Linked DNA regions of Homo sapiens. The protein of the gene in region 1 interacts with the protein of each later gene in a biochemical or structural test. Each region holds a gene or a part of one and is shown in the gene's direction. Other genes may lie near its edges.

Region 1 (3,500 bases):
CTTCTTTTTTGGAGGTGACAGAATATTGATGGCATGTTTTCTCTTACTGGTTTCCCCTGGAAATTTGCCCATGAAGTACTGAGGAATAAAATATTTAGATATATCTTTTGTAAAATTTACAATAAGTTCTGCCTAAAGCATAGTTGTGTACATTTGTCACATAAGCAAAGAACGTACAAAAGATTAGTGAGGCAATGTAGCTCCATTAATTAAGAGCACAGACTCAGGAGCTAAGACTTTCTTAAGTCGTCTTCTTCAGTTTTATGTGTAAAATGAAGACAATAATAGTAGCTTTCGCATAGTGTTGTTATGAGGTTAAACACGTTAACCTGCCATTCCAGGGTACCCATGCCTGGCTGTTTTAGTCCGTTTTCATGCTGCTGATAAAGACATACCTGAGACCAGGCAATTTACAAAAGGAAGAGGTTTATTGGACCTACAGTTCTACATGGCTAGGGAGGCCTCACAATCATGGCAGAAGGCAAGGAGGAGCAAGTCACATCTTACATGGATGGCAGCAGGCAAAGAGAGAGCTTGTGCATAGAAACCATTAGATGTCGTGAGACCCATTCACTATCATGAGAACAGTGCAGGAAAGATCCGCCCCCATAATTCAATCACCTCCCACCAGGTTCTTCCCATGACACATGGAGATTGTGGGAGTTACAATTCAAGATTAGATTTGGGTAGGGACACAGCCAGAATATATCACTGGCACAGTCTGTAAATGTCACCATCTGTTAATGAGTGAAGCAAGATAGACTCCAGGGAGGAAAGTAGAGGTAGGGAAAAGCCTGAACAGACAGGCACAACAGCTAGCAGGCAGTGGCTATCCTACAGGTCACAGAACGGTGTTCATTGGAACTTAATATGAAAAGGACTGTTAACGAAATGCCTTCATGGGGGCATTACCATCACCATCAATTGCTTCTTTAGGCCGGGTGCCATGGCTTATGCCTGTAATCTCAGCACTTTGGGAGGCCAAGGCGGGAGGATTGCTAGAGCTTAGGAGTTTGAGACCAGCCTGGGCAAGATGGCAAGACCTCAAAAACTTAAAAAATTAGTCAGGCATGATGGCATGCGCCTGTGGTCCAGTTACTTAGGAATCGGAAGCAAGAGGATCACTTGAGCCCATGAGGTCGAGGCTGCAGTAAGCCATGTTCACGCCACTGCACTCCAGCCTGGACTACAGAGCTGTCTCCAAAAACAAAAGCTTCTTCAGATGTAAAGAAGTCTATATTACTAAGTGATTAAAGAAAATGCAGAAACTGTCTCATACCATAGAGGAAACCAAGACAATATACCTAGTTGTGTTTTCCCTGAGTATATTACGTAAGGAAAAAGAGACTTGGACACAGGGTGTAGAGGGAATGTTATAACTTTATGAGAGATGGGTTTGTTATTATGTTGAACTGATTTAAACAGTACGTCTCTCCTCTGGATTTTCAGAATGACATTCCAAACAAATTTGAAATGAAACTTCGCCGAGCAACTGTTCTTGAAGACTCTTACCGGAGAATTATGGGTGTCAAGAGAGCAGACTTCCTGAAGGCTCGACTGTGGATTGAGTTTGATGGTGAAAAGGGATTGGATTATGGAGGAGTTGCCAGAGAATGGTTCTTCCTGATCTCAAAGGAAATGTTTAACCCTTATTATGGGTTGTTTGAATATTCTGCTACGTAAGTACCTTTACAATGATTATCGGCAGAAAAAGAAAAATCACTGTTTTAAAAGTAAGAGTCGGCCGGGTGCAGTGGCTCATGCCTGTAATCCCAGCACTTTGGGAGGCCGAGGCGGGCGGATCACAAGGTCAGGATATCGAGACCATCCTAGCTAACACGGTGAAACCCCGTCTCTACTAAAAATACAAAAACTTACCCAGGCGTGGTGGCGGGCGCCTGTAGTCCCAGCTACTCAGGAGGCTGAGGCAGGAGAATGGCGTGAACCCGGAAGGCGGAGCCGAGATCACGCCACTGCACTCCAGCCTGGGCAACAGAGCAAGACTCCTCTAAAAAAAAAAGTTACCATTTTAGCCATTTTAAATATACAATTTAGAGTCATTACATACATTCACATTGTTGTGCTGCCATCCCACTATCCAACTCTAGAACTTTTTCATCTTCCCAAAATGAAACCCTATACCCAGTAAGCACTCGCTCCCCATTCCCTGGCAGCCACCATTCTGCTTTCTGTCCCTATGAATTTGACTCCTCGGGTACCTCACATAAGTGGAATCATTCAATATTTGTCTTTTTGTGACCAGCTCATTTCACTTAACATGATGTCTTCAGGGTTCATCCATGTTGTAGTATGTATCAGAATGTCCTTCCTTTTTAAGGCAGAATAATATTCCATTATTTTTGCATATAATGCTTTGTTTAGGCTGGGCGTGGTGGCTCATGCCTGTAATCCCACCACTTTGGGAGGCCAAGGCTGGTGGATCACAATGCCAGGAGTTCAAGACCAGCCTGACCAACATAGTGAAACCCTGTCTCTACTAAAAATACAAAAATTAACCAGGCATGGTGGCGGGCGCCTGTAATTCCAGCTACTTGGGAGGCTGAGACAGGAGAATCACTTGAACCTGGGAGGCGGAGGTTGCAGTGAGCTGTGACCGTGTCATTGCACTCCAGCCTGGGCGAGAGCAAGACTCCATCTCAAAAACAAACGAACAAACAAAACTTTGTTTATACATTCATCTGCCAAAGGACATTTGGGTTATTTCCACTTTTTGACAGAAATTACTATTTTTAAAACCATTAAATCCAGTGGAGGAATGTGGTTCTAACAGTGGTAAACAACTCTTAAAGGAGGAAGATTATTTGTAATTATTTGTCATATTAAAGTTTTTCAAATGAAGTATTTAAATGGGGTTGTCTTTACAGGGACAATTATACCCTACAGATAAATCCAAACTCTGGATTGTGTAACGAAGATCACCTCTCTTACTTCAAGTTTATTGGTCGGGTAGCTGGAATGGCAGTTTATCATGGCAAACTGTTGGATGGTTAGTATTAAGTATAAACTTTTTACAATATAATTACCTGTTTTCTTTCACTTGGTAATCATCCTAAATGTATTTGGTTTTTTGCAAGGTTTTTTCATCCGCCCATTTTACAAGATGATGCTTCACAAACCAATAACCCTTCATGATATGGAATCTGTGGTATGTCTTTTTCACTTATAGTATAGACGAAGTATAATTTAACAAGCAGCTTGAACATTTTGAAGAATTTGCTTTTAATGACATGGAAATTAATATATTATCATGTTTCAAAATACAAATGAACTTTTTCCTCAACATTTTATTATGAAAATTTTCTAACATATAATAAAGTTGGAAGAATTTTACATTGGACAGTTGTATATCAACTACTCACAATTGCTTTTTTTCTAGATTTACTTTATCACATACCTATCTGTCTATCCATCAGTCTGTCTTAGTTTCTTCATGCATTTCAGAGTAAGTTATAGATAACATTAAACATCCCACTAAATAC
Region 2 (3,500 bases), on another chromosome or scaffold:
TCTATGTGGAAATGTTAGTGCCTGCCCTACCTCTTTCACAGACATCTTCCAAAGATCAAAAGAGAACATGTACGTGAAAGTGTTCTATTTGGTAGGGGGAATTCAACCTTGAGGAGGATGAAATGGTTTTGATTTCATAGGATGGAAAGAAAATCTTGAATTAAATCAGATTAGATCTTTGTGGTTTTCTCCTTATATGTTTAGAGGTCTTGGATGGTGGTTTTATTTTTAAATAAAAACCTAACAGTAAAACTAAAGTGAAATAACCTTTAGTTAAAGATATTTATCCAAAAAAGATGTGCTTATTATGTTGAATACAGATGTGTTTATGATGTTAAAGGACAAGAATAGAAGAAATGGACATGACTGACATTGCAGCTTATTCAGCAAAACTCAAATTTAGAATATTGTGACATAAAACCCTGATATTGAGTTTACTGTTCCCTCATCTCCTTCTGACATCATGTTTTCATGGTGCCATTCAAGCCCAAGATTCATTTTTTAAAGTAAGCCTTCAAGGTACATTGCTCACAAACGTAATATCCTCATGAAGTCCCTAAATAAGGATGTAAATGTAATTATTCTTTTAAGGAAACTATCGTGGGAAGGAAATATCTTCAATTCCAGCATAAAATCATCCCTGAATTGAGGATTTTAAAGCTTTTGGAGCCAACACCAATTCACTTGCATCACCAGGCCAGAGTAGAAGGGCTCAAAGCTCTCCTCCCCAAGAGAAAGCCCCTTGGTTTGACTCTGTTCAGGATAAAGTACTGCTGTATAGGCTTCCTTACTTAGTTTATTGCCAATTATGTCAGCTTTTCATATTGATCAAGTAGTCAATATAGGAGGTTGCTTTTACTGAAAGGGAGAGGTAAGCTCTGTCACCACAGTGATCTTACAGATTTTAAGGTGCCACATGTGGTCCAAAATGTAATTTTCTCACTACAATTCTTGCAGTCTGATAATTAATGAAGTCCTACGAATGCACAATGACTAGTGAGTAACCAATACCAGAAGAAGCTGGAGACAGGCACGCACTGACTAGAGCACTAGAATGTGAACACCTGAATACCTTGAAGAATCTGTGATCGTTTTACAGCCCAAGCACAGTATTGTTAGCATTGTTATTCCTGCAGTATTTATCTGCTCTTCTTAATCTTCTTGCTTATTGATTAGTATGGCATGGGGAGCAGCACCAAAGCCTCCTTCACCCCCTTTGTGGACCCCAGAGTATACCAGACGTCTCCCACTGATGAAGATGAAGAGGATGAGGAATCATCAGCCGCAGGTAAGCAAGAAGGGCCCTGTGTTTAAAAAACAGCTTCGTCTTCCTTTCTGGTATGACCTGATAAGGAAATTAATCCTCAGTTCAGTAGTTAAGCTGATTACTGCTTAGGTCCTATCTTAAAAGGAAGACTTTTTAAAATTATTATTTCTGTAGGACTCCTAAAACAAATGTATTACTTTCCATTTTTTTTCCCATCTCTTCTATTTCGTTTCTGGTAGACCCAGGGGTACATAGGGACCCTAGGAAAAGCTGTTCCTCAGTGATCTCTGAACATAACTAAATGTTTCCCCAAAACAATTTCTGGGTACAATGTTTTACACACATTAGGCACTTAATAAGTGTATGGTACATTGTGTTGAGTTCTAGGTGTGTGCTTCCCACCACAAAGATCAGGCTGATTTAAAGGAGTCTTGCTTTCTAATCTTCTTCAAGTAATTAATCATCAAAGTCAGCTTAGGACAGTTTTTCAACTGATAAACTGCAATTTTAAAAAGTAGATCTTTTTTGCCTATATACAAGAGTGGGGATGGTGTATTTAATTTGGGACTTTCTAGACTCTGCAAGTAGTGTCTATAAGCCTGTTTTTCTAATGAATAAAAGATTCCTTTGATGAATGACTTAGACTTTATTCTACTAAAACAAAAAAAAAGTGTAAAATAAGGAGAGTTTCAGAGTTTCCTTGCCTTTACTATAATTCAAACCAAACAAGGAGAAATCATAGTGTTTTGAAGCCCCATCTCCATAAGTTATCTTTTAAGATGTCACTGACTTCTCTGATTCTTTTTCTCAAAGCTCTGTTTACTAGCGAACTTCTTAGGCAAGAACAGGCCAAACTCAATGAAGCAAGAAAGATTTCGGTGGTAAATGTAAACCCAACCAACATTCGGCCTCATAGCGACACACCAGAAATCAGAAAATACAAGAAACGATTCAACTCAGAAATACTTTGTGCAGCTCTGTGGGGTATGTTGGTGCTTTTTTTTTTTTTTTTTTTAAATAACCACTCATTAATGAACTGACCCTCAAACATTAAAAGCCTGTGGATCTTGTCATCAAAAGAACACTGGTTGAATCCTGGGTATTAGAGACCTAACTTGGGACTATCTTGACCTCAGGAGAAACCAAAAGGAGTTTTATATGTAGAAATAGCTGATACGCTACTAGCCAGGAAGACGAGATTAGATTCAGAGCAACCTTGTCACACAATAGTGATAGGCTAAAGCCAACAAGAGAACTAGCTACCACTGAATACATTGAGTGGGCAAAGCAAAGCCTATAATGTGATCAATCAGAGGCGATTTGTGTCTGGCACTTTGTGATATACCCCACGTTCATTCTCCATGATCCATACCACATCCTGCAAGGGGAATATGAGCATAAATAATGGCATAAACCTTTATTTCAAGCTGAAAAATCAGCCCAGAGTATTTTTGTGAATTACTAAAGGTCATAACCCTAGCAATAACAAGATAAAACTTGAAAAGAACAACAAATAATTTAATGAACTTTCCCTTTTAGTTTAAAACATCAATCTGCATTTTCTCGTGAAAAAGATCTGCAGGTTTTAGCTGACCTCAAACTCAGGAGAGGCATGATGAGATTCTATCAAAGTCTTGGTCTGTGTTACTATAAACATCTCATACAGATTAAGGAAGGACATGTCCCCTGTGTACCCACTGAAAATACTAGGCTTGGATTGGGGAACCATAATTTTAAAAGGCTGAAAGCATTTGAGATGTTAGCGGGGAAGAGTGTGAAGCCTAGGAACCATTTCATGATAGAGGCTCTGTCCTCTGGAGAAGAGACAGAAGAGAACAAGATAGCCACATTTAATACTGAAAGGATTAATATATGGACAAAAAAGCAGACATTTGTGTTGATCAGAAGATAGAAGTACAAGACGTAAGAGAAGTTAGAGAGTTACATGTTCATGAATAAAGTACACTGCACAATGAGCCTCTCAATGTGTGTGTGTGTTGAGGGGTGGATGATACATTTCCCTAGCCATAAATTTTTAGGATTACAACTACCCAGACAAAGCCACTTATGTGCCTGTGCTTCTGTAATAGGGATTACTGCATGGGTGTTGGGCTGCACTAGATTTAGAGACCTGAGAAGTCCCTTAAAGTGAGTATGTCTGTGACTCTCCAGCTATTAACACTTCTCTTGAATGGGTTTATCATTTCCCTAAAAAAGAGCAAAAACTTGAGGG
Region 3 (4,186 bases), on another chromosome or scaffold:
ATTAATTTTTTTTTTTCTTGACAGAGTTTCACTCTGTCACCCAGGCTGTAGTGCAGTGGCACAATCTCTGCTCACTGCAGTTTCCACCTCCTGGGTTTGAGTGATTTTCCTGCCTCAGCCTCCCAAGTAGCTGGGACTACAGGCACCTACCACCACTTTGTATTTTTTTTTTTTTTTAGTAGAGTTGGGGTTTCACCATGTTGGCCAGGCTGGTCTCAATCTCCTGACTTCAAGTGATCCACCTGCCTGGGTCTCCCAAAGTGCTGAGGTTACAGGCGTGAGCCACCGTGCCTGGTCTTGAATGAGAATGATCCCTCTTCTGGGAAGCCCACTCTGGCATTTGGGGGCCCAATAATCTTTTTTTTTTTTTTGACAGAGTTTTGCTCTTGTTACCCAGGCTGGAGTGCAATGGTGCAATCTCAGCTCACTGCAACCTCCGCCTCCTGGGTTCAAGCAATTCTCCAGCCTCAGCCTTCCGAGTAGCTGGGATTACAGGCGTCCACCACCATGCCCAGCTAATTTTTTTGTGTGTTTTTAGTAGAGATGGGGTTTCATCTTGTTGGCCAGGCTGGTCTAGAACTCCTGACCTCAGGTGATCCGCCTGTCTTGGCCTCTCAAAGTTCTGGGATTACAGAATAATCTTTAGACATTTCTTAATCGAACCACTGTCTTGTTCTTTCACCTTTTGTTAGATAACTATAAAAAAAAAAAAAAGATTGTTTTGGCCGGGTGCGGTGGCTCACGCCTGTAATCCAGAGACCAGCCTGACCAACATAGAGAAACCCTGTCTCTACTAAAAATGCAAAATTAGCCGGGCGTGGTGGCCCATGCCTGTAATCCCAGCTACTCGGGAGGCTGAGGCAGGAGAATCCCTTGAACCCGGGAACTCCGGTGAGCCGAGATCATGCCATTGCACTCCAGCCTGGGCAACAAGACCGAAACTCCGTCTCAAAAAAAAAATTGTTTTAAGGCCCTTTTCTTGCATAAAGCTTGAAACTCCTATATAAGTAAATTTCCTGGTTTGTATTTTTGTAGAATAATCTCGAAGCATACATAGTTCTTATTTGTGGGAAATTAGAATTCTAAGGCCTTTGGACGCTGCAAAGCCAGAATTTCTCGCGTGAAGAACACGCCCTATAGCATCCTCCCCGCCACCTCCACAGCACCCCCTCGTGTTCACAGCATTGACAAGCATGAATAGCGCGGGGCAGGACAAGGACTACATTTCCAATAAAGTCTAGCATTTATAGTGACGTCAGAACGGAGCGCGGGCTGGCTTTCTAGAGCCACAGCTTTTCCATTGGCCAACTATTGGAGGCGCCTGCGCAAATGGTGCAGTCCCGCCCCCTCCACCCTGTGACGCGCCTGCTGGGCCCGAGCTTTTTCCTGGGATAGCGATGGAGACGCCGGGCGCATCAGCGTCGTCCTTGTTGCTTCCCGCCGCGTCCAGGCCCCCGAGGAAGCGCGAGGCGGGAGAGGCTGGGGCTGCGACGAGCAAGCAGCGGGTCCTGGACGAGGAAGAGTATATCGAGGTACGACCTCGGTGCGGACGCCGGCGACTTCTGGGCCCATCCTCTGCTTCAAGCTCCTCTCAGGTTCCCTCTCTCGGGTGTTGACACTCCGTCTCCTCGTGGAAGTGGAGGAGCCGGGTGTGGACGGTCCCACGAGTCAAGTAAACAGGGCAGAGGAAGACGTCTGTGGTGGAAGAGGCTGTAGTAGTGTTGTCAGGGAAAAGAGAGAGCGGCTCTCTTTGTATGGGACGGGGGTCAGGGAAAGAAGATTTTCTGTTAAAGTGTGAGTAGGAGTTTGACAAACTGGAAGGATGGTGGCAAAGAGGGCTTTCTAAAGAGCGGTGGCAGCAAGTGTGAATGCTGGGGTTCCTGGAAAGAGACCGCAGTTGTGACAGCATCTCGAGTGAGTGGACCTGCGTCGCCCCACCACACGCACACAGAAGGAGGAGCTGAAACGGGGATTGGCGGAAGTCAGTTTGGTTTTAGACCTGTTTAATTCGGGACACCTTTTGGGATATGTAGATGGATGGCTTTAACGGACGGTTGGGTGCCCAGATATGCAGCTCGGGAGCAAGGTCTGGCTGGAGGTGCAGACTTGGGAATCTCAACTTGTGGTAGTGACTGGCTGAAGTTACTCAGGAAAAAGGTTTATTTTTATTTTATTTTTTGAGACGGAGTCTCGCTCGTCGTCCAGGCTGGAGTGCAGTGGCGCGATCTCGGCTTACTGTAACCAACCTCTGCCTCCTGGGTTCAAGCCATTCTCCTGCCTCAGCCTGCCGAGTAGCTGTGACTACAGGTGCCCGCCACCACGCCCGGCTAATTTTTGTATTTTTAGTAGTGGTGGGGTTTCACCATGTTGGCCAGGCTGGTCTCGAACTCCTGACCTCAGGTGATCCGCCCGCCTTGGCCTCTCAAAGTGCTGGGATTACAGGCGTGAGCTACCATGCCCCGCCAGGAGAAAGGTTTAGATTGGAAATAGAAAGTCATGTGTGGAATGAAAGTGACAACACCCACATTGGTCTGGCTTGTGGGGAGCCAGCAATGGAGAATGAGAATGACCAGTTAGCAAGGGCGAGAGAGAAGGGTTTCACGGACTTCAGAAGAGTGTTTAGTAATGTTAGAGGTTGCAGCATGGCTACCATATGGGATGCTCAACCCCACTAGAAAGTGCCCTCAAGCTCCCTCAATCCAGCCCCAGTCATTGGGGAAGTAGAATTTGAAGGAGGTTCAGCAAGTTCCTTAGCATGTACAGCAGTGGACCTGTGAGGCAGGAGCACCCAGACTGCAGCTCCGACTTTCTTTTTTCTTTTTTTTTTTTTTTTTTGAGACGGTCTCGCTCTGTCGCCCAGGCTGGAGTGCAGGGGTGTGATCTTGGCTCACTGCAACCTCCGCCTCCCGAGTTTAAGCGATTCTTCTGCTTCAGCCTCCCACGTAGCTGGAATTACAGGTGCCTGCCACCACGCCCGGCTAATTTTTGTATTTCTAGTAGAGACTGGGTTTCACCATGTTGGCCAGGCTGGTCTTGAACTTCTGACCTCATGATCCACCTCCCTTGGCCTCCCAAAGTGTTGGGATTACAGGTGTGAGCCACCGCGCCTGGCCTCTGACTTTCATTCTGATCTCTCCTTGCAGGGCCTCCAGACGGTCATCCAAAGGGATTTCTTTCCTGATGTGGAGAAGCTCCAGGCACAGAAGGAGTACCTGGAAGCCGAGGAGAATGGAGACTTGGAACGGATGCGCCAGATTGCCATCAAGTTTGGCTCTGCCTTGGGCAAGATGTCCCGGGAGCCCCCGCCACCCTGTATGAGGACCCTGTGGGTGGCGGAGAGGGGAAAGCCTGCTGAACTGTCGCTTCAGGCTCACTCTAATTCTTATCCCCCTCTCTTCCCCTAGATGTGACTCCAGCCACATTTGAAACCCCTGAGGTGCATGCAGGCACTGGAGTGGTGGGCAACAAGCCCAGGCCCCGCGGCCGAGGCCTGGAGGATGGTGAGTGAGGGTGCCCTCTTTAAGTCACATGGTCAGGATTGCCTGGGAATCTTAGCCTGTGAGGCCCTGAGGGGGTGGTCCAGAGGGCTGCAGGCCACATCTTGTTCCTGAGGGGTCTTGCGTAAATAGCAGCCTGTGAAGTCAAAGGACATTGGTCTAGGTGGTAGAACATCTGGGTCCAGCTCCCACACATGGCTCGCCTCTGTGAAATGGGACTCTCACCAGCTCTTGCTGGCTTTTCTGCTGTGTTCCAGCCCTGCCCTGTGGGCTTCATGGATGTTGGAAGGCCCCTTTTGTTACTATCCTGAAGATGCCTCAGGGCCTCTCCATTTGTTTCCTTCATGTTGGTCACTTCCCAGATAACTGCATGGCTCACTGTGTTTCTTCCTGTAGATCTCTGCATAGGTGTTACCTGTTCAGAGAAACTTTTCTTGACCTGCCAGTGTGAAGTCACAACACCACTGGTGCTCTGTGGCTTCCAGCCTGGCTTTGGTTTTTCATCACAAGACATTTTATTTTATTTAATTTCATTTTATTTTTAATTTTTTGACACAGAGTCTCGCTCTGTCACCCAGGCTGGAGTAAAATGGTGTGATCCCGGCTCACTGCAACCTCCACCTCCCAGGTTCAAGCAATTCTCCCTGCCTTAGCCTCCCAAATAGCTGGGATTACAGGCGCCTGCCACC
Region 4 (3,500 bases), on another chromosome or scaffold:
GGAAGCTGTGGTGTTGCTTGAGGAGATCTTGTCACCCATGGGGCTCTTCTAACCTTCCTTCCCAGGCCTCTGGGCTGTGTCTTCACCAGGGGAGGAAGCCTTGGGCATCCGTGGTTACCCTGGGCTTTCCTTAACGTGTTTGGGGAGGTAATCTTCTTTCATAACATCTGCAACTTCTACAGAGCCTTGGTGACTCTGTGTTTTGTACTTCCTGGAGGTGTTGGCTTAGTGGGAGAAAATAAGTGACTAGGACCTATGGCATTGAGTTTATTTTCCTCAATTCTGATTCTCTGGTTCTTCTCAAAGGAAATGAAGCAGGCTTCTGGAGACCTTAAGATTACTCAGATGGCTCCACAGTAATCTAGCAATTAAAATGGCTACAGGTCTTATCAACTTCCCCTCCCCCGTTATCCCTGAGATAGAAATAGAATTGGAAATGAAAAATGATTTTTCAGGGCAGCAGAGACTGTTTCAAGCCATTTTCTCTCCAAGTCCCATTTGCCTTTCCAGTGTGGTGAGAATCAACCCTAAAGCAGATTACACTGGTAACTCAAGTCAGGATTTTAGGGCCGAGTAGCCAGAAATCCAGCTCCTGACCCTTCAGGATTTAGAGTCACCAGCTAGGGCCCTTTTGCCCAGGCTGTCAGCTCTTTGGCCCCAGTTAATGACTTATCACCCTACACTTAATGCAACTGTTTATTTTGGGGTTTTATTCTCAGAAGTAATTTTTTTTTTGAGACAGAGTCTCACTCTGTTGCCCAGATTGCAGTGCAGTGGTGCAATCTGAGCTCACTACAATCTCTGCCTCCTAGGTTCAAGTGATCCTCTCACCTCAGCCTCCCTAATAACTGGGACAGGACCACAGGTGCATGTCACCACACCGGGCTAAAAATATAAATTTGTTTCTAAACATAAGAGGCGTGTGACATCATTGGGCTTTATGCAATATATAAATCACCCATAAACATAAAAAGTGCTACAGGGTCCTTCCTAAAGCTGGCTGTGATTCAGCTTCACCATCTCTTCCCCAAGACAATTTAGCAGCCTCTTCCTCAGGTCTTTTCAGCTTCCTTAGGGGAGCATGGAGCCTCCCTTAACCTTCATGCAGTGCTTGCTGGCTTCAAAGAGTGGCTGGGGAAATTAGAGAAGGGACGAATTCAGGCCTGCAGGAGCCCTCCCTCTCCGGTGACTGACTGGTCTGCATGAAGATCAATTATGTCTGAGGCTGAAGGGGAGTGAGTTCTCAGTTATTTCTGCCTTGGAGTGGAAAACAGGCGGTCACCATGTAAAGTGTCATGATTTTTATTTAGAGTAGTTAGTATTAAATATTGATTCTATAAATAGAGACAGAGGCAAGTCCCTAAGTTTTACTTCCTAAATTCTAAGTTCTTGTTTCATTTAAAAAAGAGGGAATCACAATGGCCTTTTCCCATTTAGCATTGGAAAGTTGAATTCTCTGCCTAGGTGCCAGCATCAAGAATCAGGCCAAAAACGGAATGGGGAACCATGCCTTTGTTCAGACAGAACTTCAGAAAAAACATCAGTGTACAAGTTTCCTAGTCATGACGTTAGAGGGGAACTCAGACCTGGCAGTGAATGGTCTTTGGTCTTTGTTTGTTTAGAACATAGATAAGAGTCTTGTTAATCCCCTGTTTAAAATAGAAACAGGAGTATATCATTAAATATAATATCTCTAAGATATTATTTTTTATTGTTGTTGAGACAAGGTCTTGCTCTGTCACCCTGGCTGGAGTGCAGTGGCACAGTCATAGCTCACTGCAGCCTTGAACTCCTGGGCTTGAGAAGTCCTCCTACCTCACCAGGTTGGTCTCAAACTCCTGGCTACAGGTGATCCTCCTGCTTTGGCCTCCCAGAGTGCTGGGATTATGGGTGTTACCCACCATGCCTGGCCAGATATTATAACTGACATTGGGAAACCTGTGCTGTTTAAGAATATGGTGTTTATTTGCTTCTGGATCTTAAAGAGATCTTCAGTAAAAGGAAGTTGTGATGTTTTGGAAATGAAAAGTGATTTTCAGGGCAACAGAGACTGCTTCAAGGCCATTTTCTCTCCAAGTCCCATTTGCCTTTCCATTCTGCTGAGAATCCACCCTAAAGCAGATTATACCAGTAACCCAAGTCAGGATTTTAGGACAGAGTAACCAGAAATCCAATTCCTGACCCTTCAGGCCCAATTAATGACTTCTCACCCCACACTTAATCATCCTTTATTTAGAAATGTGCTTAAAGCACTTTGATCATTTCTGGGTAAATACCTCTTTAAGGACAGGACTTTTTTTTTTTTTTTGGAGACGGAGTTTCACTCATGTCGCCCAGGCTAGAGTGCCCAGGCAGTGGCGCGATCTCAGCTCACTGCAACCTCTGCCTCCCAGCTTCAAGCGATTCTCCTGCCTCTGCCCCCTAGTAGCTGGGATTACAGGCGACTGCCACCACGCCCGGCTACTTTTTTTGTATTTTTAGTAGAGACGGGTTTTACCATGTTGGCCAGGCTGGTCTCTTAACTCCTGACCTCAGGTGATTCGCCGACCTTGGCCTCCCAAAGTGCTGGGATTACAGGCGTGAGCCACTGCTCCCGGCCTAGTTGTTCTTTTTATCAGATAAATATGTTCTGTCCTAGGCCGTGTGTGGTGGCGGTCGCCGGTAATCCCAGCTACTCGGGGGCTGAGGCAGGAGAATCGCTTGAAGCTGGGAGGAGGAGGTTGTGGTGAGCCAAGATCACGCCACTGCACTCCAGCCTGGGTGACATGAGTGAAACTGTCTCAAAACAAAAAAAGGAACAACAACCAGTGGTTAATCTTTTTATTTTAGAATCTTGGGGAGCCTCAGGGCCTTATTAACTTTCACTGTGAAGCCAGTGCCTCTCCAGGATTGACAGTAGTGGTCACTGCCCTTCCACCTCCCACCACCCATCCTGCCCTGCTGGAGAAGAGATAATCCAAGGTCCAGTGGAAGCGCGTGGACTCCAAAGCAGATGGGTGGCCAGGTGTGCTCATCAGCCCAGCCAATTCATGAGTCGGTGTAGACCCCACAGCCTCCATGACCTGCCCTTGGTTGGGGCGAACGTAGGTTCTCTAGGGATTGGGCATCCATACAGTTCTAGGTCAGCCTCTCCCAATGCATAGCGCTGTTGGTAGCATAAACTGATGTCTGTCTTGAGTCACATGGCCATTCCTGGATGTAGGTCTTGCTGCAACTTTCCTTTTTTTATTGCACAGTTTCTCCACTGGAGAAGTGGTTTTACCTGGATCTGTGTCATTCAGTGGAGGGGTTGGGGAGAGGGCTTTAGGGGGCAGTTTAAATTCATTTTCACATAGTACTTCAGGGTCCCACTTCACCTTAGATTAGCTCCATGGCTTGAATCTACCACTGGCTTTACCCGTTTCTTTCTTTGCCAGACTCAGAGCTTGGAAGGTGGCAGTGCTTCTGTACTCAGAGCAGCATCTTTCTCAGATGAATGCGTGTGGTACTTGATGCCACAG

What was found.
Region 2: the proteins of NEDD4 (region 1) and TNIK form a complex in vitro, tested with the Homo sapiens proteins (2 studies listed by BioGRID).
Region 3: the proteins of NEDD4 (region 1) and ESS2 interact in a test that uses a peptide from one of them, tested with the Homo sapiens proteins (2 studies listed by BioGRID and IntAct, with this or other methods).
Region 4: the proteins of NEDD4 (region 1) and GABARAPL2 form a complex in vitro, tested with the Homo sapiens proteins (2 studies listed by BioGRID and IntAct).

Annotation. Positions count from the first base shown.
Region 1 is NC_000015.10:55,840,113-55,843,612, reverse strand, and holds part of NEDD4 (E3 ubiquitin-protein ligase NEDD4), read left to right. Parts: intron 1-1,449; coding exon 1,450-1,679; intron 1,680-2,885; coding exon 2,886-3,007; intron 3,008-3,095; coding exon 3,096-3,166; intron 3,167-3,500. UniProt on the Homo sapiens protein: E3 ubiquitin-protein ligase which accepts ubiquitin from an E2 ubiquitin-conjugating enzyme in the form of a thioester and then directly transfers the ubiquitin to targeted substrates. Specifically ubiquitinates 'Lys-63' in target proteins.
Region 2 is NC_000003.12:171,082,906-171,086,405, reverse strand, and holds part of TNIK (TRAF2 and NCK-interacting protein kinase), read left to right. Parts: intron 1-1,176; coding exon 1,177-1,288; intron 1,289-2,080; coding exon 2,081-2,251; intron 2,252-3,500. UniProt on the Homo sapiens protein: Serine/threonine kinase that acts as an essential activator of the Wnt signaling pathway. Recruited to promoters of Wnt target genes and required to activate their expression. May act by phosphorylating TCF4/TCF7L2.
Region 3 is NC_000022.11:19,141,852-19,146,037, reverse strand, and holds the start of ESS2 (splicing factor ESS-2 homolog), read left to right. Parts: upstream 1-1,386; 5' UTR 1,387-1,397; coding exon 1,398-1,532; intron 1,533-1,545; exon of another isoform or gene 1,546-1,914; intron 1,915-3,143; coding exon 3,144-3,312; intron 3,313-3,404; coding exon 3,405-3,500; intron 3,501-4,186. UniProt on the Homo sapiens protein: May be involved in pre-mRNA splicing.
Region 4 is NC_000016.10:75,569,379-75,572,878, forward strand, and holds part of GABARAPL2 (gamma-aminobutyric acid receptor-associated protein-like 2), read left to right. Parts: intron 1-3,500. UniProt on the Homo sapiens protein: Ubiquitin-like modifier involved in intra-Golgi traffic. Modulates intra-Golgi transport through coupling between NSF activity and SNAREs activation. It first stimulates the ATPase activity of NSF which in turn stimulates the association with GOSR1.